3 linked regions of the Homo sapiens genome follow. The protein of the gene in region 1 interacts with the protein of each later gene in a biochemical or structural test. Each region holds a gene or a part of one and is shown in the gene's direction. Other genes may lie near its edges.

Region 1 (7,886 bases):
CAAAGTCTAATGTAGAATTCTAGAGTAGATGGTGCTTGGTTTCCATGCAGTATCTGCCACAAACTGAAGTATTAATATTTTCTGGTTTTAAGAATGCAAGTAAATAAAGAAAACAAGAGAGTGAATGTGATATGGTTTGGCTCTGTGTCCCCACCTAAATCTCATGTTGAATTATAATCTCCAGTGTTGGAGGAGGGACCTGGTGGGAGGTGATTGGATCATGGGGAAGGGATGGAGGGAGTTCCCCCATACTGTTCTTGTGAGAGTGAGTTCTCAAAAGATCTGGCTGTTTGAAAATGTGTAGCACCCCTCTCCTTTGCTCTCTCTCTCCTGCCAGCCATGTGAAGAAGTGCTTGCTTCCACTTGCCTTCAGCCATGATTGTAAGCTTCCTGAGGCCTCCCCAGAGGCAGAAGCCTATAAAGCCTTCTGAACCATGAGCAGATTAAACCTATTTTTTAAATAAATTACCCAGTCTTTATAGTAGTGTGAGAACACACTAATACAGGGTGTCTGTGACTTAAGACTTCTGCTAAGTGGTTAGAGCCTCTGACAACTCCAAATGGCCAAGTGACATATTGTTGAGTCCTCTGAGGGCAGAAGTCTATCTCCTCCTACTTTATCTGGGTTATGTTGCTAAAGCACCAAAAGGTAATTGGTATTTGTTGATTGAGGTTTTTGTTCTTTCACTGAACCAGTCAACCCTTTTGGAAATATAATTTTATATTTTAAAACTTCAGAACTATTCTGTATTCTTTAATCTCTCAGGGTCTTTATTACTGTTCTTTGTAGTAGAAATGATTTGGACTAGTTCTGAGTTGGCTGATTTAGAAGACAAGAAGTGCTGATTCTTCATTCATTCAACTTATCAAATATTTTATTGACACCTATGATGAGCCATTAATTGAATGTAGAATGTGAAGAAAAGGAAAGAATTCAGGCAGATACTAGCATCTTTCACCTAAGCAATTGGACAGGAAGAAAAGTTCTAATGCTCTATTGTTGCATAACAAACCATCTCAAAACTGAGTGGCTTAAAAGAATATTTTTTTGTTATTTCTCAGGATTCTTTGGGTTGACTGAGCTAAGCTCTGCTCTTCTTGCTTGAGGCAAGACCAGAACTAGAGAAAGGTGAGTGTAGTGTCTAAAGTACAAAATTTAAGGAGGCACTCACTCTTGGAGTCTTGGAGCCCAATTATGAAGGTCAATGCCTCCTTACATTTTGCACCAAAATGCCTCACTTGCTTCACGCTGATCTTGACCCTGGCTTGGGGTCTCTCTCATGTGTCTTCAGTAGGATGGCAGCTAGAGCTGGAGTCACCTGAAGGTTCAGCTGGGCTGGACATCCAAGTTAGTGTCTCCACTCACAAGTCTGGTGCCTTCTTCACTCACATGGCTGAAACAGCAGGGAGCTGGCCAGGCATCTCTTTCCTTCTCCATGTATCCTCTACACATAGTAAGCATGGGCTTCCTCACAGCATGCGAGTCTGAAGGTGGTCCAGATGTCTTACGTGGTGACTGGCTTCTGCAGAGCAAGTATTCCAAGAGGCCTGATAAGGTTTGGCTCTGTGTTCCCACCCAAATCTCATCTTGTAGCTCCCATAATTCCCACATATTGTGGGAGGGACCCAGTGGGAGATGACTGAATCATGGGGGTGTATCTTTCCCATGCTGTTTTCATGACAGTGAATGGGTCTCATGAGATATGATGGTTTTAAAAACAGGAGTTTCTCTGCACAAGCCCTCTCGTTGCCTGCTGCCATCCATGTAAGATGTGATTTGCTCCTCCTTGCCTTCCACCATAATTGTGAGGCCTCCCCAGCCATGTGGAACCCTAAGTCCAGTAAACCTCTTTCTTTTGTAAATTGCCCAATCTTGGGTATATCTTTATCAGCAGTGTGAAAACGGACTAATACAAGGCCCGAGTAGAAGCTGCAAGGCTTCTTGTGATCTAGCCTTGGAGGCCCCAGAATGTCAGTCACTTTCACTATGTCCTATTGGTCAAAGTCAGTAAGGCCTACCCAAGACTCAAGGGGAAGGGGATTATACTCTGCCTTTTGATCTGAGTAGTAAGGATGTAAAGGTAGGGAGAAAAGTGATGGAGACCAATTTTGGAGGGTATCTACCACAGTAAGCCCAGTAAACAAATAGGTTTTGGGGATGGAAATTTAGAAGTGCTCTTGGGGAAGCTTAAGTTTGAGATGTCCTTGGAACCAAGTGAATATATACATATGGAGATCAGAGAAAGACTGAGATTGAAAACATCAAATTAGGAGATGCAATTTAAAATCAAGGCACTAGATGTGGTTACCTAAGGAGTTGAGAGACAGAAGGAGCCACCAGGCAGTAAAATGAGAGAACAGGGGAGTATGGAGTTTCGGAAGCCAAAATTTTAGAAAGCGCTTTGAAAAGGAGGTGATCAGTCATGGCCAATGCTGCTGAAACGTCATATAAGCTGAGGACTGAGAAGTGACAATCAGGTAGAGCAAGGTTTTGGTCACTAGCGACTCTACATAATCGAATGGAACTCGATTATGTAGAGTGAATCGAGTGGGGAAAGTGAGTAAAAGCAAGATTTTCAAGTTTTCATGAAAATGGGATAGTGACTGAATAGGGACGTGGAGTCTAGAAGGTTTTACTATTATGTTTTTTTAAGATAGAAGACAGTATAGCCTATTGTGGTGAATGGAAATGACACAGTAAAAAGTGGGCTGAGAACCCCTCAGGCTTGCAATGCTAATGCTATGTGACTGGGATGCAGAAGTCCCCAAAGCATGCAGAGCTCTTGGGCCTCCCTTAAACCCCACTGAGAGCTGTATCAAGGCCAAGGTGGGGCAAGTGTTACCAAAAACACAGCAACAACACAGAAAAGAAACATGTTAACTTTGAGAGCAGTGATTCTCAAAGTTTGAGAGCAGCATTCCCTGAGAACTTGTTAGAAATGCATATTCTTGGGACCCACCAGTCCAACTAAATCAGAAACTCCAAAAACTAGGGATCTGAGTTTTAGGATACGTGCTAAGGTTTGGGTCCCACTATTCTAAAGGAACTCAACAAAAATTCAAGTAAAGATGAAACCGAGTGCTGACTTTGTTCCTTATGGGCCTAAAATAACAAAGCTTTAAAGACAAGAGGGGATTTTTCAATTGTCTAATTGGCTTCGAACCTTACCTGTGGAGGGATCCCAGACACAGAGAAGGTGTCTGAGTTGTCCAAGTCCTCCAGGCCGGACTGAGAGGACAACTCCAAATAATAGAGAAAAAAAAAGAGACAGAGAGCCAGGGATATGGTTGTTTTGATGTGCCATGAAGTTGCAGCCTTTCTGGATTTTTTTAGTATCGATTTATATTGCTGTTTGTCTACCAATACTCAAATCAGAGCAAGACGGTCCGCCTTACCTCAGTCTGGCTCTTTTAAGGTTTGATTTTGGTTTTGGGGACTGCAGAGGTGCAGCTTCCCACGGCAGACCAAGCGCCTCTGAGGAACGCAGCAGCTTCAGCAGGTACAGGAAGATTTCCCGCAGCCGGAGGAATCTCCTAGTGCTGGGCCTCCGGCTGTGACTTTTGCCATTTCAAATTCACTTGGCCTCTAGGGAGAGGCAGACAGCCCGACGCTGAGCGCGTCGGAGCCCCGGCTCCCTCTGCTTCTGGAGAGGAGATTTAGCCTTAATTTTTGTGACAGATGGAGTTGATAGTCTCTCCACGGAAAGGGGAGGAAAAAAGCGCCAGTTTTTGACAGGCCGCAGACGCCCGCTGCCTCTGGTGGCGGAAGGCTGCGTTGCGCCCCAGTTAAGGTAGCTCGGAAACTCCCTCGCCGAGAAGGCAGAGGTTTCCTCTGCAGAGCAGCCTCCCTTAAATATACTGAGGGGCTGAAACTTACACTTTAATATAAACCTTTGGTGCGTGCCCATTTATTCCGTCTTCTGTCCTGTGACTGCGGCCAGGTGGTAATTGCTCGACATTCCTGAATATTTTTAATGCTAGTTAAATTTTTTCATTATTGCACGTGTTGCAAGCTTATCTTCCTAAGAAATTATTTCGGTTGATTGGATTTCGGTCTTGCAATTTGAAAACGATGCCTGGCGCACGGGCGGTACCTGCCAGATGGCCTAGCTGGGGCTGGGGGGTGGCGGGCGGGTTGTAAGCATCTCATCAACATCTCCCTAATAAAGTGTGTGCTTCTTTCTTGTATGCTTCTTTAAAACAGTTTCAGTCTCACATTTTATCTCTGGATTCTCCCCTTCCCCTCTGTGGTGATCAAGACCCAAAGACAGGGAGCCTGGAAGATAAACTGAGTTCTGAATCCAGTCGAAAGCACAGATGGGGGCCAGCGAGAATTAATAAAACTACAAAAAAAAAAAAAAAGAAAAAAAAAACAAACAAAAAAGGCCCGTGGCTGAGCCGGATGCAAACAGCTGCCCCTAAGCCCTGCCCGCTGGTTCTGTGCGCGAGCTGGGGCTGCATATCCGAGCCTCCTTAAGAGTAGGAGGAGCTCCGGGCCTCCGTCAGGCTCCCTAAGCCGTTCCTTTCAAGCCCTGAATGCCTGAATGTGAGCTGCCCACCACCCTCCCGCCCTCCCCCACTCCGCAACCCCACTCCAGCGGCTCGTAAAAAAAAAAAAAAAAACTTTCAACAACAACAGGCAGGACCAATAGCATCTCGAAAAGCCGGGAAAGGGGGCCGAGCAAAGGGCGAAAGAGAGTGGAGAAAGGAGAAAGCGGGCAGGCTCGGAGCGCGCGGGGCCGGGGCTCGGCGAGCCGGAGGAGCGTTGCTAATGTTTTTGTTTGTTTGCTTTTCCATGCATGCATAATGAGGGGGCACCGCGGCACCACGCGGGGGCTCCCGGCCCACTTTTGTATTTAAAGCCTCGCTGCTAACGAGTCTGCAGCCGGGCTCAGCGGATCCGCTCCCCGGGCTCTTGGTCACCCGAGAAGCTGCCGCCGAGTGAAGCCAGGGAGCCGCTCTCCGGCAGCGCCGACTTTCTTGTTCTCCCCGCGCTTCCCGGAAAGAGCTCCCCGGAGCTCTGCGGAGGCCGGGGTTGCCGCGGGCGGAGGGGGAGGGGACGCGGGGCGGCCGGGCCGCGGGAAGGCGGGCAGCGCGCGGACGCCGGGCCAGGAAGCGGCGCGATGCGAGAGACCGCGGCGGCGGTGGCGGCGGCGAGGCACTGAGCCCAGGAGGAAGGAGCCGCCGCGGCCGCAGCGCGAGCAGCCGGCACGGGGACAGCCGGCCGCACAACGGATCTGCAGGCGCGGAGCAAAATGCACCCGCCGCGCCGCGCGGTCCTGCAGCCCCGCCACGGCCCCGCGGCCCGCACCCCCCCGGGGCGACAGTGAGCCTCTCCCGCCACCACCGGGGGCCGAGCGGAGGGCTCTCGGGTGGGAGAGCGGGACCAGATCTCGACAGCTGTTCATTTCCAGGAAGCCACCGCAGCCAGAGCGAAAGGGGACCTTCTGCCACCAGCGGGGCATCAGCCAGCGGCGCGCATGGATTTATGAAGACACTCATGCAAGAAGTGGGCAGGACTTGGACAAACTTTTCCACCGGCTCCGCGTCCGCCGCTCCCCGCGCCTCGTCTCCTTTCCCCTCCTCTCCCGGCGGCCGCCGCTGCCCGCGATGGTGGCCGCGCTGCTGGGCGGCGGCGGCGAGGCCCGCGGGGGGACAGTGCCGGGCGCCTGGCTGTGCCTGATGGCGCTGCTGCAGCTGCTGGGCTCGGCGCCGCGGGGATCGGGGCTGGCGCACGGCCGCCGCCTCATCTGCTGGCAGGCGCTGCTGCAGTGCCAGGGGGAGCCGGAGTGCAGCTACGCCTACAACCAGTACGCCGAGGCGTGCGCGCCGGTGCTGGCGCAGCACGGCGGGGGCGACGCGCCCGGGGCCGCCGCCGCCGCTTTCCCGGCCTCGGCCGCCTCTTTCTCGTCGCGCTGGCGCTGCCCGAGTCACTGCATCTCGGCCCTCATTCAGCTCAACCACACGCGCCGCGGGCCCGCCCTGGAGGACTGTGACTGCGCGCAGGACGAGAACTGCAAGTCCACCAAGCGCGCCATTGAGCCGTGCCTGCCCCGGACGAGCGGCGGCGGCGCGGGCGGCCCCGGCGCGGGCGGGGTCATGGGCTGCACCGAGGCCCGGCGGCGCTGCGACCGCGACAGCCGCTGCAACCTGGCGCTGAGCCGCTACCTGACCTACTGCGGCAAAGTCTTCAACGGGCTGCGCTGCACGGACGAATGCCGCACCGTCATTGAGGACATGCTGGCTATGCCCAAGGCGGCGCTGCTCAACGACTGCGTGTGCGACGGCCTCGAGCGGCCCATCTGCGAGTCGGTCAAGGAGAACATGGCCCGCCTGTGCTTCGGCGCCGAGCTGGGCAACGGCCCCGGCAGCAGCGGCTCGGACGGGGGCCTGGACGACTACTACGATGAGGACTACGATGACGAGCAGCGCACCGGGGGCGCGGGTGGTGAGCAGCCGCTGGACGACGACGACGGCGTCCCGCACCCACCGCGCCCGGGCAGCGGCGCTGCTGCATCGGGCGGCCGCGGGGACCTGCCCTATGGGCCTGGGCGCAGGAGCAGCGGCGGCGGCGGCCGCTTGGCGCCCCGGGGCGCCTGGACCCCACTCGCCTCCATCTTGCTGCTGCTGCTTGGGCCGCTCTTTTAGCCCTCGCGCCCCCCGCCGTTGGCTGCGGGAGAGCCCGCGTCCCACTCCCGTGCTCGCCTCGACCCCGCGCCGGGCACCTGTGGCTTGGGACAGATAGAAGGGATGGTTGGGGATACTTCCCAAAACTTTTTCCAAGTCAACTTGGTGTAGCCGGTTCCCCGGCCACGACTCTGGGCACTTCCCCTGAAGCTCCTCTCCGGAGCTTGACTTCTTGGACCTCCTCCCCCGCCCCAATTCCAAGCTCCAGAAACTCCCAACTCGTCTGCCGTCCAGAAAGCTAGCTGCAGTGTTCAGGACGTCCGGGAGGAAGCAAGCATGTGGGGGACAGAACAGTAGTCCTGGACTCGAAAGGGAAGGTGCTGACCAGTGGGGCCTTAGCAATTTGAAGGGTTGGGAAGGAGGAATTATATTTGCAAAGGGGCTGTCTATTAGCATATTTCCTTTGAGGGGGCAAAAAAAAGTGCCAGTATCGACTTTTACAGATTGTGGCCAGTGAGGATATTATAATCCTATGTAAACAGAAAAGTCCCACTTACCGATTCATTCTTTCACTGTTTGTATCTGCGCCCAGAATTCTCAGTGACGTGGGGGTGAGGGTGGGTGGCGATTGCCTTAGAGGGAACCCCTAAATTGGTTTTGGATAAGTTTGAGCCCTTGACCTTAATTTCATTGCTACCACTCTGATCTCTTAGCACATTTCTTAGGATTAAGGGTCCAAAAATGCTGATCTAAGGGGTTGCCATGGTGTTGAACAATGCAACTTTTTATTTAAAAAAGCTCTGCACTGCCATGTATGAAAGTCTCTTTATGATGTTTGTTTTTTTGTCATTTTTGTTCTTTACATCAAGAAATTTTATGTTTAAATATGCGGAGAATGTATATTGCCTCTGCTCCTATCAGGGTTGCTAAACCCTGGTACATCGTATATAAAATGTATTAAAACTGGGGTTTGTTACCAGTTGCTGTACTTTGTATATAGAATTTTTATAAATTGTATGCTTCAGAAATAATTTATTTTTAAAAAGAAATTAAAAGTTTTAAACTCACATCCATATTACACCTTTCCCCCCTGAAATGTATAGAATCCATTTGTCATCAGGAATCAAAACCCACAGTCCATTGTGAAGTGTGCTATATTTAGAACAGTCTTAAAATGTACAGTGTATTTTATAGAATTGAAGTTAACATTCTTATTTTCAAGAGAATTTATGGACGTTGTAGAAATGTACAAATGCATT
Region 2 (7,023 bases), on another chromosome or scaffold:
TACTGGGTTTTTTTACTTAACATATTTAGGAAATCATTCTATTATCAACATATATAGAGAGTTATTTGTTCTTTCTGTTGACATGCTTTTACTTATTTAGTTGTATGGCTGTACTGTAACATCTTTGGGTTAAATATTTGTTTCCAGGTTCTTCTCTTACAGCAATGAATGTCCTTGTACATACTGTGTTATGTGCTCATTTGCAAAGTTATCTGAACAATATGCTTTTAGAAGTAGAATTACTGGGTCAAGGGATATGTCTGCATTTTTGATTTGCAGACATGGAGCCAAACTGCCACCCGTTTCTGGGGGGTTGTACCAATTTATCCTCTCCCCCAAAGTGTATAGCTGGATAGATGATCTTTGGAGAATTCAGGAGGATCAACTACGATGCTTTTTCAGCTATTATATGCCTACTTTTCCTCCACAAATCCTCCCCCACCCTATGCGATTCTAGCCAGTTTCTTTGAATTTACAGAGGGAGATGTTGAGGCTCAGAAGGATAAAAGTAACTTGTGCAGGATGATCAGTGCGGGTGGTGGTGGGTGTTTTGTTTTGTATTTTTGCACCCCTCATGTTTGTATTTGCCAGCACCTTTCATTGGAGGTGCTCAGTGTCAGTTTGTAAACATTATTGCATTATTTTTCTCCATTTTCACATGGAAAAAAATGAGATGCAGGGGAAGTTTGAGTTATGAGAGGGAAACTGGCCAAATATAGAATCTTGTCATTTTACTTCCAGTGCAATAATAAATGTTTCCAAATGACAAAGCTGAAGAGATGTTTTTTGTTTGTTTGTTTGTTTGTTTGTTTTTTGAGATGGAGTTTTGCTCTTGTTGCCCAGGCTGGAATGCAATGGCGCTATCTTGGCTCACGCAACTTTTGCCTCCTGGGTTCAAGCGATTCTCCTGCCTCAGCCTCCCGAGTAGCTGGGATTACAGGCATGTGTCACTGTACCTGGCTAATTTTGTATTTTTAGTAAAGACGGGGTTTCTCCATGTTGGTAAGGCTGGTCTTGAACTCCTGACCTCAGGTGATCCGCTGGTCTTGGCCTCCCAAAGTCCTGGGATTACAAGCATGAGCCACCGTGCCCGGTGAAGAAATGGTTTTTTAGTGAGTCTGAGTACAACAAAAATAGCAATAATATAACACTAACTTAATAAAACTGAACAGCAGGCCCAAAAATAGCCCAACATTAAAATTTATTTTAATGTATTCTCTATGGAAAAGAGAATCCATTAAATGTAAAACTATTTATTTTACTCTAAATTCACATCCATTTGTGTCAGTGTACAAGACATAATTTTTATAGTAGCAGTCAGTACATATAGAATATGATTTTTGAATTCTTCAATAGCATAAAATATTTTATATTTACTCATTTAAGTATTTGTTCATTTAAAATCACAGGCTGGGTGCGGTGGCTCACGCCTGTAATCCCAGCACTTTGGGAGGCTGAGGCAGGTGGATCATGAGGTCAAGAGATCAAGACCATCCTGGCCAACATGGTGAAACCCCATCTCTACTAAAAATACAAAAATTAGCTGGGTGTGGTGGCGCGTGCCTGTAATCCCAGCTACTCGGGAGGCTGAGGCATGAGAATCACTTGAACCCAGGAGGCGGAAGTTGCAGTGAGCCAAGATCTTGCCACTGTACTCCAGCCTGGCGACAGAGCGAGACTCCGTCTCAAAAAAAAGAAAAAAAAAATCACAGTATAGTATTCCATGCATCGACAGCTGTAGTTTTTTTTAAATTTGTTTTTGTTTTTTTGAGACAGGGTCTCACTCTGCCACCCTGGCTGGAGTGCAGTGGCATGATCACAGCTCACTGCAGCCTTGACCTCCTGGGCTAAATGATCTTCCCATCTCAGCCACCTGAATAGCTGGGACTGCACAGGTCTGTGCCACCACGACCAGCTAATTTTTTTATTTTTTGTAGAGACATTTTTATGTTGCCCAGGCTAGTCTTGAACTCCTGGACTCAAGTGATCCACCCGCCTTGGCCTCCCAAAGTGCTGGGATTACAGGTGTGAGCCACCACTCTCAGCCAACAGCTGTAGTTGGTGCAATCCTTTTTATTCTTTTATTTTTTTCTACCTTTTTGCTATTATAAATGGTACTTTTATACCCCTTGTTCAAATACTTCTTTTGGATTATTTCCTTGGACTCTTACTCCCAACCTGGGCTCACCAAGTCAGAGGATACAGTTTCGGTGCCTAATTGCAATCTGGAAAGGTTGAACTAGTTTCCAGCACTATCAGCAATTTATGGGGCCATTTCTTGACAACCCATCTAGTGCTATTACAAAGAAATGTAATGATACCTTGAATTAGGTTTAATTTACATTGCTTTGGAAAAAGAGACCAGTAGCTGATTTAGATTTTTTGAAAGAAGTACAGTGCTGTGATATAGATTATCTCCAAGATTTATGTAACTGAAGCCAACTTGTGGTTGAAGAAAGATTTGGTTGATGAGATTGAAATATTGTGGAAGTTTAGAATAGGATCATAGCAGTATAAAATATAAGGCTAGATGCTGTTCAGTTGGAAATACCAGGCATTGTGCCGGAAGCTGGGGACACCCCAGAGTAACATAGATGTGATGTCTGTCCTCATGACACTTTTAGGTTAGTGCAGTAGACAGACATTAAAATCACCTATGGTAATTATAGATGTGATGAAAGGGGAAGAATAGGGTGTCGGGAGTGTCAGAGAAGTTCAGCAGCTAAACAACATTTGCAGTTAAACATTTGTGAAGGCCCTGAGCTGAGAAGGGATTTGGTAGCTCAGGGCAGCGCTTCGCTAACTTGAATGTGCTCATGAACCATCTGGGAATCTTGTTAAAATGCCAAGTCCTGAATCAGTAGGTTTGGGGTGGGACTTGGGATTCTGTGTTACTAACCAGCTCCTGGGTGAGGCAGATGCTGCTGGTGGGTGGATCACACTTGGTGTAGCAAGGCCTAATTGAGAGCTTGGTGAGCACCTAAAACTGGCTGACCATGGTGAGCAGGAAGGGGCAGGTGGCTTGCAGTGACAGAGTAATTCTCTGCCTAGGCTGCACTTTAGATTCACCTGGGGAACTTAGAAAAATCAGGGTTGCAAATGCCCCACCCGCAGCCATTTTAATTTAATTGGTCTCAGTTGGGGCCTGAGAATGTGTATACAGTCATGCACAGTATAACGATGTTTCCATCAAGGAGAGACTGCATATGCCACAGTGGTCCCATAAGATTATAATCCATAATTTTACTATACCTTTTCTATTTTTAGATATGTTTAAATACACAAATACTCACTGTGTTAGTTACTTACAGTATTCAGTACAGTAACATGCTGTACAGGTTTGTAGCCTAGGAGCAGTAGGCTATACAATATAGCCTAGATACGTAGCAAGCTGTACCATCTCATTTTGTGTAAGTACCTTTTATGATGTTTGCAGAATTATGAAATCACATCAGGACTCATCCTCAGAATGTGTTCCATTGTTAAGTGATGCATACCTGTATATATATTTTAACTCCCCAGGTGATTCTAATGTGTAGCCAGGCTTGAGAACTAGAGACTAAGGACAGTGTTGAGACTAGAGAATGGCAAGGAGCAGAGTTGAGGGTCCTGTATGGCATGCAAGGATTTTGGACTCTATCCTGAAGGCAGAGCTAAATCTTTGAAGGATTTTTAAGCAGGAGAGTGAACTGATCTGATTTGCAATTGTTAAAAAGTTCACTGTGGCTGTAGTCCAGAGCAGTAGTTTTCAAATTGAGGTAGATAAGATGATCCAGGGGAACTGGAAGAAAATTTAGAACTTTTTATTGTTTTTATCTAAAAGATAAGATAAAACATTTAATTTAGGAATTGTCTCTGGCATCTTCTTGGGTCTATAGGTCAAACAGTTAATGTGTTAACTGTAGAACTTTGGGTGTCCTGAAGGAAGAGACTGAATTCTGCAGTGAGCAGAGACATATTTATACATTTGTTCTCCATGTATTGCAACATGTTGTTAACAGTTTATATTAACCAGTTCTCATTGAACTAGCCTTTACAAAATGGACATGCAGAGAAACCAGTGATCAAAGAAAATACTAATAATACAAGCACAAGCAAACAAGTTGTCAGAGCTGACACTTGTCCAACTCCTGTGATGAATTCTTGGTGAGCTATTCAAATAAGTCAGCTCTTACTAAATTGGAAAGTATCAGGAAATTTATAAGAAACATGAACTTTCGTGCTCTGTCATTAATAGGAATCTTGCTTTAAGATTCCTTTTAATCGTATGTAGAACCCAGCTGCACGGTGGCTCACACCCATAATCCCACTGTTTTGGGAGCCTGAGGTGCAGGAGGCCAGGAGCTCAAGACAAACCTGGGCAACATAGCGAGACCCCATCTCTACCAAAAATAAAAAATTAGCCGTGTGGTGTCACGTGCCTGTAGTCCCACTTACTTGGGAGGCTGAGGCAGAGGATTGCTTGAACCCAGGAGTTCAAGGCTGCATTGAGCCATGATTGCACCACTGTACTCCAGCCTGGGGGACAGAGGGAGACTCTGTGTCTCAAAAAAAAAAAGAGGAGGACCGGGCATAGTGGGTCACACCTGTAATCCCAGCACTTTGGGAGGTCAGGGTGGGTGGATCACAAGGTCAAGAGATCGAGACCATCCTGGCCAACACAGTGAAACCCCATCTCTACTAAAAATACAAGAATTCGCCGGGCGTGGTGGCGTGTGCCTCTGGGTAATTTCAGCTACTCGGGAGGCTGAGGCAGGAGAATCCTCTGAGCCCAGGAGGCGGAGTTTGCAGTGAGCCGAGATCTCGCCACTGCACTCAAGCCTGGGTGACAGAGCAAGACTCTGTCTCCAAAAAAAAAAAAGTATGTAAAACCTTGAGATATTAAATAATAAAATATGAGGCTGTCACCAGTATGAAGACATTTGAAAACCAAAAATTTGGAACATAAAAAGAACCTCTACATTTTTTTTGCAGTGATGTTTAAAGATAAAGGATATTCCATCAGATGCTTTACAAAATTTTGCTAACTTCAATTATTAAAATTTATATTTTGAGGGTTTTTTGCTTTTAAGAGACAGGGTCTCACTCTGTTGCCCAGGCTGGAGTACAGTGGCACAATGATAGCTCACTGCAGCATTGAACTCCTGGGCTCAAGCGATCTTCCCACCTTGGCCTTCCAAAGCTCTGGGACTACACATGTGAACCACCATGCCTGGCCAGTTTTTAAGTTTATTGTTCTTATAAAAGACAAAATGGGGCCGGGTGCAGTGGCTCATGCATGTAATCCCAGCACTTTGGGAGGCCGAAGTGGACGGATCACTTGAGGTCAGGAGTTTGAAACCAGCCTGGCCAACATGGCAAAACCCTGTCTCTACTAAAAACACAGAAATTAGCCAGGTATGGTGGGCACACCTGTAGTCCCAGCTACTCGGGAGGCTGAGGCAGGAGAATCGCTTGAACCTGGGAGGCGGAGATTGCAGTGAGCTGAGGTTGCGCCGCTGTACTCCAGCCTGGGAGACAGAGCGAGACTGTTTCAGGGGAAAAAAAGAAAAAAGACAAAAAAACACATACCCTTGGCAGATTCTTCCTGCCCCACCCCCAAAAGGCCCACTTAAACAAAAAATGGACTGATGTACTACATGGAAAATAATTTTGTCAGGAAATCAAAATACTGTTGGAAGATGTATAGAAAACATTGCTGAATATGTGAACAAACAATATTAGAACAAATTTTGCAGTGTGGGAAGTTTGGTATACGGTTATAAAAGTACAGAAGCTTCTAGCATGTCTCAGTATCGCTAGATACTCTTTTTTTTCTTTTCTTTCTTTCTTTCTTTTTTTTTTTTTGAGACAGTTTTGTTCTGTCACCCAGGCTGGAGTGCAGTGGCACCATCATGGTTCACTGCAGCATTGACCTCCCAGTCTCAAGTGATCATCCTACCTCAGCCTCTCAAGTAGCCAGGACCACAGGCATGCACCACCATACCTATTTTTTTTATTTTTTATTTTTAGGAGAGATGAGGTCTCACTATGTTTCCCAGGCTGGCCTTGAACTCCTGGCTCAAGCAATCCACCTGCCAAAAGACCTTCCAAAGTGCTGGGATTACAGGCATGAGCCACCGTGCCAACTGTGCCAGGCCTAGATTACCTTTTAATAGTTACATCCAAGAATAAGGACCACTTCTTTTGTGAGCTACTGGAAGAAAGTTGTACTGGAGAAGACATATTTTTAATAGTAAATGATTGCCTTCATAAGAACATTACTATATGGAATAATAGACTGAATGTAAATTAATGGAACAGCTGCTTTGACTGAACAAAAGAATGAAATTCATTCATTACTTCTCTATGGGCAGGCTGTTGAGTCCACTTATTTGTTAATTATCTTGTGGTAGAGTTGTTGATGAGTTTTGCATTTTTCTTTTTTAAAAAAATGCCAACTTTTTGTTATGGTAAGTGGCTACAGTTTGAGTAATCCTAATATGAAATCCAAAAGGCTTCCAAATCCAACACTTTTTTTTTTTTTTTTTTTTTTTGAGACAGGTTCTCACTCTGTATGTAGCCCAGGCTGGAGCGCAGTGGCATGATCATGGCTCATTGCAGCCTTGACCTCCTGGGCTCGGGTGATCCTCCCACCTCAGCCTCCTGAGTAGCTGGGACTACAGGCATGCACCACCATGCCCAGCTAATTTTGCAACCAGTAGGAATAATGCAAATAGTACAAAATCTGAAAAATACCTAAATCTGAAACACTTCTGGTCCCAAGCATTTCAGATAAGGAATACTCAACCTGAACCTAGCAAATATCATTTGAAAAAATAATATCTTAATCTGTCTCTTCAAGTAAAAGTATTATTTAAATAGTGAGTGAAAAAGGAACTACTTCTTTTCTTAGAAAGAAATGTGCAGGCCGGGCGCGGTGGCTCACGCCTGTAATCCCAGCACTTTGGGAGGCCGAGGCGGGCGGATCACGAGGTCAGGAGATCGAGACCATCCTGGCTAACACGGTGAAACCCCGTCTCC
Region 3 (7,023 bases), on another chromosome or scaffold:
TCCCAAGGTTTTGATTTAGCAAATGACCTGCAACTCTCTGGAGAAGCGGCAGTTCCCAAGGAAAGCCTGACTTCTTATCAGCAGCTGGCTGCCCTTGTACCTGGCAGGGACTTGGGCCTGTCCCAGGTGTCCAGGGAGGAAAGAGGAGCAGTCAGAGCCAGAGTCACGGCCACATGTGACATTGGTAATGGGAGGGGTGGGGGGGAAGCAGAGCCCCTGTGACAGGAAACGGTGATGCTGCACCTGGTAGCTCCCATCCCTAGCACCCCTCCAGGGCCACAGCTTGCACAGCCCTCACAACCACCCTGAGCCCTGTCTGCTGGTGAGAGGCAAGCCTCAGGCTATGAATGCAGAGCAGGCATCCCTGCCCTACCCAGGCCTATCTGCCAGGGACAGCCAGGGTGCAGGGGAGGGAGGAGACTTGGGTGGGCAACTCCCTCCGGCGCAGCCCAGGCAGTTCCTGGAGGAGGCAGCATCTGAGGTTGGTCGTGGTTCTACGCACTTAGTTGCTGCCCTCTTCATCCTGAGCCTCCAGGGTGGAGCTTGAGGAATGGGAGTCCCTGGGTGGGGGCCAGTGTGGAATTTGCCCTGGGCCTGCATTTCGTAGGAGGCCTAAGCCCTCCAAGGTGGGGAGAGGCTTCATGCACAGCCAGTTCCTGTGGAGGAAGAAACCACAGGGTAATTTAACAGGGAGAGTTTGTGTAAAGAATTAATTACAACAGGGGATTGGAGCAATGAGGGACAGGCTAGCAAAAAGCAAAGAGAATGCCAGAGAATATGGGAAGAGCAGCTCTGAGGAGCAGCCGCCCACCTAGGGCTGAGATGGAGGCTGGGAAAGCCCTCGCAGCCCAGCTGAAATGGCTATGGCGCTTCGGTGATGGAACTTGCCGGAAATGCCCCCTCTAGGCATTGGGGAAGTATGTCTGCGGCCACTCCAAACCTCCTGAGGAGGGTGTGGCAGGGGGGGTGCTGGTCACCCCTTACTGGAGAAGTTGCCACCATCAGAGTTGGGGAGCCTTAGACCCAGTGCTCAACACACCTCCCTGAGGAAGGGGCCTCTAAGCCAAGAACTGAATGATGAGAGCTAGGCCTGTGGGGCATTGGTGCTGGGCAGCAGGGCTGTGCAGCAGAGGTAAGGAGGTGGCAGGCAGAGCTGGAACACCAGTCTGAGCCTTGTGGACCTTGGTGGGGACCAGGGTTTACACCAGCCCTGGAGCTCCTGCCTCCTCCCCATTCCCGACTGCCTGGCAGATGTGGCCGATGCCCCCACAGACCTGACTTCTCTCTGCAGACCGCGGCTTTCCCCTGCTCACCGTCTACCTCAAGGTCTTCCTGTCACCCACATCCCTTCGTGAGGGCGAGTGCCAGTGGCCAGGCTGTGCCCGCGTATACTTCTCCTTCTTCAACACCTCCTTTCCAGCCTGCAGCTCCCTCAAGCCCCGGGAGCTCTGCTTCCCAGAGACAAGGCCCTCCTTCCGCATTCGGGAGAACCGACCCCCAGGCACCTTCCACCAGTTCCGCCTGCTGCCTGTGCAGTTCTTGTGCCCCAACATCAGCGTGGCCTACAGGCTCCTGGAGGGTGAGTGCCGACCTTGTGGGGCCGCCCCACAGTGCCTGCTACTGCTGGTCTTGCTCTGCGAGCCCTTGACACAAGCCATCTGGTTTATTCTTCACCTTCATGCCATCAGTTCATTCAATATTCCAGAAGTACCTCTTGCATGCCTGCCAGGGGCCAGGTACTGTTCTAGGAGCTAAGGATATAACAATGAACACAACGGGTTGGAATCTTGCCTGCCTGCAGCTTTCATTCTTGTGGGGCAGACAGAGCGTCTGAGCATGCCAAGGAAATCAGGTGGCTTCTGGAAGGAGCTAGCTGGGGAGGAAACTGGGAAGAGGGAAACGCTGAAGAGGAGGGGAACAGACGAGGAGACCTCCATTCCTCTATCGTAAATTGGGTGGTCAGGGTGGGGGCTAGCAGAGCAAAGGTGGGAGGGTGCCGGGTAGGCAGGCCTAGCCCCTTGGAGGGCACCACAGTGTGACCCTCGTGTGCCTGGAGTGCACTGAGCGACAGGGAAGAGCTGAGGCTGATGGGGCAGAATAGTTCCTGGGGCAGGGGGCAGGTCTGGGAGTGGCTTGCAGGGCTTTCTCCGGAGGAACATGGGGAGCTATGGAAGACTTTGGAGGGAGGGAGTGCTGGCAGGACCTGACTTAGTTTTAAAAGGATTAGTCAGACTACTGTGTTAGGAATGGTTTGGGGTGGGAAGGTTCAGGGGCGAAGCTGGGAGACAATCAGAAGGCTACAGGAGAAACCTCTGAACAGGAGGATGTGGGGTGTGATGCCGGGATACGGGTGGAAGCCGAGGCATGGCGAGAAGCAGGCAGCTGCAGCCAGTCAGAGGGTGGGATGAGCTGGATCCCAGTGGAGAGGGGAGAAGGCAGCTGACTAGGTGCAGGGAGGCCCCATTTGACCATCAGAAAGTCAGGAAGTGGGGCTCAACCAGGTCACAGAGGCTGCACCGCTGGCAAGTGTGTCCTAAATTCACACTAACTTTATCACACAAACATGGCAAGAATATTAAAATCTCAGTAAAGGAAGACAAGCCATCACTTATGCTTCCCCAGATTCCTTTCATTCTCTGGGGCAGGGTTGATGGAGCACTTGGTTTTTTGCATGCTGCCCTTTTTCACTAAAAATTATGTGATTAAATTTAGTTTAGTGGGGGGTTTTTTGTAATCACACTCAACAGAGGAAAGCATTATATGATAAGCATTTCCCACATACGTAATTCATGCGCAAGGCATGGTTCTGCCTGGGAGGCTTGTGGAGTTGCCCCCGCCTCCTTGGGGTGGGTTGTGGGGTCTTCAGCGGTGACCTTCCGCCTTCAGCATGCCCCCTTTTCTGGATTATTTCTGGAGGACAAATCCGAGGTCAGGCTCGTTGAAGACTGTGTTGTGGTTCCTGGCCCTGCTTCAGGGGCGATGTAGTCTAGCGCGAGCTGCCATGCAGGGCACGGAGCATTCGCTTTTGTCTCGACATCCGGCCTTCAGAGGATGACCAGCCTGGCGACGCACTGGACAAGGAGGTGTAGAGTGGGGATGCACACTAGGCGGTCGGAAATCATTATGCGTTAATGTCACATCATACCCCAGATGTCCACTGTGTTTGTTTTCAAGTGGTAGAATCGTGGCTTTCTCACGTTCTCTAAAATGAACACATATTGCTTCCATAATTGAAAAAAAAAAAAACCTAACAGTTTTTAAAAAGCAGCCAAGGTCACCAATATGGTGAAAGGCCGTCCCTACTAAAAATACAAAAATTAGCCGGGCATGGTGGCGGGCGCCTGTAGTCCCAGCTACTCGGGAGGCTGAGGCAGGAGAATCGCCTGAACCCGGGAGTTGGAGGTTGCAGTGAGCCAAGATCGCGCCACTGCACTCCAGCCTGGGCAACACAGCGAGACTCCATCAAAAACAAAAAAAAAGCAGCCAAGGCCAGTAGCTGGCTCTCTAGGGCTGCAGTGCAGCTTGGGCTGAGGCAAAGCCACCCTTCCCCACACAAGGCCACTCCTGATCAAGGCCAGGTGGGCGGAGGGGTGTCCCAGTCCCTACTGGTTGATCAGGGTGCCTGGTCCTGGCTCTTCCCAACCAGCACGAGTGAGGACGCAGCTGCAGCAGGACGTAAGCACAGTCATCGCTGCAAACTGCAAACTCGTAAGCACAGTCATCGCTGCAAACTGCAAACTCGTGCTCCGAGCGCTGCCCTCCCCTGTGGAGCGGAGGAGGGGAGGCCTGGGGCCGCGGCGGTGTGCGCCCCGCTCTGACCGCAGAGCCCCCTTCCCGAGGAAAGCGGCTGGCCCGGTCCCGGCTGGTGATCACGCGGGGCCCCTGTCTGCTTGGTGCGCAGGTGAGGGTCTGCCCTTCCGCTGCGCCCCGGACAGCCTGGAGGTGAGCACGCGCTGGGCCCTGGACCGCGAGCAGCGGGAGAAGTACGAGCTGGTGGCCGTGTGCACCGTGCACGCCGGCGCGCGCGAGGAGGTGGTGATGGTGCCCTTCCCGGTGACCGTGTACGACGAGGACGACTCGGCGCCCACCTTCCCCGCGGGCGTCGACACCGCCAGCGCCGTGGTGGAGTTCAAGCGGAAGGAGGTGCTTGTCCGCGCGTGCTGTGGTCTACCCAGTGTCTGTCTCCGGCCACAGTTCGTTTCTCGGTCGGTTTAGTGTCCGTGTAGCCACCCAACCGTGTGGCCGACCATTCGCGCTTTCATTTGTCCTTCGCCTCCGTCTGCGCCGTCTGTCCTAGGGGGAGGGGAAGGGGGAGTCCTGCCAGCACCCAGCTGGGCCTTGCCTCGGGAGGCAAGGACCAGGACGAGGCCCGAGGGCTCGCGTCTGGGGCATACTTGTGCCGCTGCAGGCGGGCGCGGCGCGCTGCCCGGGCGGGGAGCATCTGCCGGGAGGGCACTCCCTCCCACCAGCAGTTAGCCCCCAACGGGAGGGCCCTTGAGTGACCACGAGCAGAGCCGGGGATTGGAGAAGGACGGGAAGGCGGATCACCTCCGGCGCCGCCCGCCCCGCCCTTCTCCGGCTCGCGCTGGTGGAGCGCGACCGCCACCTGCTGGGCCTCGGCCTTCCTGCAGCCGGCCCACCCAGCAGGGGCCGTGGGAGAGTGGGCGTGGGGACTGAGGTAGGTAGTACGTTGCCTTGTTCCGCTTCTCTGGGCACACCACGTGCAGGTTTGGCAGGGAAAGGGGGTCTGGTCGAAAGCACAATTTGTGAGTAAAGGCTATGTGGGCCTCCCTGGGGTGACAGCAGAGGCCTGGTGGGCAGAGCCATCCAGGTGCCCAGCGGCTTTCCTCACAACCCCCTCCAGCCTGGGGTAGGAGGATGCTTGGAACAGAGCGCTCTGATGTACACCTGGCCTCGGAGCTCGGCTCTGCCGGCTGTTCCTGTGTGACCTTGACCTGACCTTCACCCTGTGGGGCCCAGCTTCCTCAGGGGAGAGTGGAGGTGCTCATCCTGCTCTCTGGGGACCTGGATGGGACCTGCCAGCAGGGTGCCTGGGCATCGGCTGTAATTCTCCTTATAAGAGGTCTGCATTGTACCTGTTACACAGGCGAGGCTCAGTGGCTCAGGGAAGGTGACGGCCAGGCTGGCCAGTGACCCCGTGGGAACTTGAACCCAGGTCAGACTGTCCCCAGACCTGGCTCTGACAACACACATCTGGTCCACCTATGGGCTGTGTGGGACGTGCAGCATTCTAAGGTCTCTGGTTTTGGGGGGTCTGAGGGGCCCATCTCGCCTGCACTGACCAACGCCCTCTGCATCCTGCAGGACACCGTGGTGGCCACGCTGCGTGTCTTCGATGCAGACGTGGTACCTGCATCAGGGGAGCTGGTGAGGCGGTACACAAGCACGCTGCTCCCCGGGGACACCTGGGCCCAGCAGACCTTCCGGGTGGAACACTGGCCCAACGAGACCTCGGTCCAGGCCAACGGCAGCTTCGTGCGGGCGACCGTACATGACTATAGTAAGAGGGGCTGGTGGCACGGCCTGGCTAGGCCCCCAGGAAATGAGGTGCTCGCTCTTCATGGGCAAGCAGCACCCTACACACATGCACACCTGGCATGGCCCTCTGTGGCCCAAGCCACTTCCCCTCCACCCTCTGCCCAGCACTTCCTGTGTCTCTGCCAGGCCTGCCCTCCAGCCACCAGCAGGGCTTTCACCATGGGACCTCTCTCCCTGAGCTGATCCATGGCCGACCCTGGCAGGGCCCCACCACACCCCCCTGCTGACCTCACCAGGGCTCACCACCGACTGCAAACACACATGTCACCTGAGGCTTTCCTCCAGCCCCTGGCACTCCATCGTTGCCCCTAAGGCGTCCCAAGTGCTTACGGATTATTGCTCCAGCCTCAGCAGCTCTCTGCTAAACAGGCTGGTGTACAGAAGCAGCCCCGAGCCAGGTCAGGGCTTCTGAGCCCATTATCCTGCCTGACTGCTGACATGCCACCATGCTCACCTGCTTGCAGGGCACCTTTCAGCAGCGGCCTTGCTTCCTGCCTCCCTCCGCCACCTCCTGCAGATTTCTCCTGGGATCGCCTTCCAAATAAACCACCTGCATTTGGGGTCTGTGTCTGGTGGAACCCCAGGCCATGAGTCCTTCACCCCTTTCTGCCTGGCCTGGTCCTGTTCATTCCTCAGTCCTCCCCACCTCACCAAGCCTATGGAGGCCCCACTTGTCAGAGGGGAGACAGCCTCCTTGCCCTGGCACTGAACACCCTGTGTGCCAGAGTGCCCCTCCCATCATTGTTTCCACCACATGAGATCCACAGTGGCAGCACGCGGCAGGTACACCGATGGCATGACTTCCAGGGCTTGGCCTGCGGGGTCATTGGGTCTGCTGGAGGTTCCTGCAGTGGAGGGTAGTTCTGCCATGCTCTGGGGGAGCTGTCTGGAGGGCTCTAGTGTGTCCTTCCCAGGGCCTTGGTAATGTAGACCTTTAACCCCCCATGCCTCACACACACACACACACACACACACACACACACACACACACACCCTGTTACCCAAAAAACGAAACTCTGTAAAACATTTTAAAGAGGTTTATTCTGAGCCAGGATGAGTGACCACAGCCTGGAGAAAACACAAACCCAAGAAGCCTTGAGTAAGTGGTCCCCAGGTCCAAGGTGGTGGAGTTACAGTTTGCTTTTATACATTTTAGGGAGACAGGAGTTACAAGCAAGGACATAAATCAACACACAGAAGGTATACATTGGTTTGGCCCCAAAATGCAGGGTATCTTAAAACAGGGGCTTACAGGTTAGAGGTAGATGCAGAGATTCTTTAATTTACAGTTGGTTGAAAGAGTTAAGCTTTGCCTAAAGACTTCAGGTCAGTACAAAGGAATGTTAAGGAGGCCTGCTATGTGTCGCCTGATGCTATACAGGGTCAGGAGGGAAAGTAAACCACGTTATACCTGGGTAACTTAAAAAAAAAAGGTTTTTAACAAGATTTTATGGACCAGGCATA

What was found.
Region 2: the proteins of GAS1 (region 1) and PTPRA form a complex in vitro, tested with the Homo sapiens proteins (one study listed by BioGRID).
Region 3: the proteins of GAS1 (region 1) and RET interact in a biophysical measurement, tested with the Homo sapiens proteins (one study listed by IntAct).

What each region holds. Positions count from the first base shown.
Region 1 is NC_000009.12:86,944,504-86,952,389, reverse strand, and holds the start of GAS1 (growth arrest-specific protein 1 precursor), read left to right. Parts: upstream 1-4,883; 5' UTR 4,884-5,610; coding exon 5,611-6,648; 3' UTR 6,649-7,886. UniProt on the Homo sapiens protein: Specific growth arrest protein involved in growth suppression. Blocks entry to S phase. Prevents cycling of normal and transformed cells. Binds 20(S)-hydroxycholesterol (20(S)-OHC).
Region 2 is NC_000020.11:2,876,463-2,883,485, forward strand, and holds part of PTPRA (receptor-type tyrosine-protein phosphatase alpha isoform 1 precursor), read left to right. Parts: intron 1-7,023. UniProt on the Homo sapiens protein: Tyrosine protein phosphatase which is involved in integrin-mediated focal adhesion formation.
Region 3 is NC_000010.11:43,101,051-43,108,073, forward strand, and holds part of RET (proto-oncogene tyrosine-protein kinase receptor Ret isoform a precursor), read left to right. Parts: intron 1-1,291; coding exon 1,292-1,579; intron 1,580-3,714; exon of another isoform or gene 3,715-3,901; coding exon 3,902-4,143; intron 4,144-5,325; coding exon 5,326-5,521; intron 5,522-7,023. UniProt on the Homo sapiens protein: Receptor tyrosine-protein kinase involved in numerous cellular mechanisms including cell proliferation, neuronal navigation, cell migration, and cell differentiation in response to glia cell line-derived growth family factors (GDNF, NRTN, ARTN, PSPN and GDF15).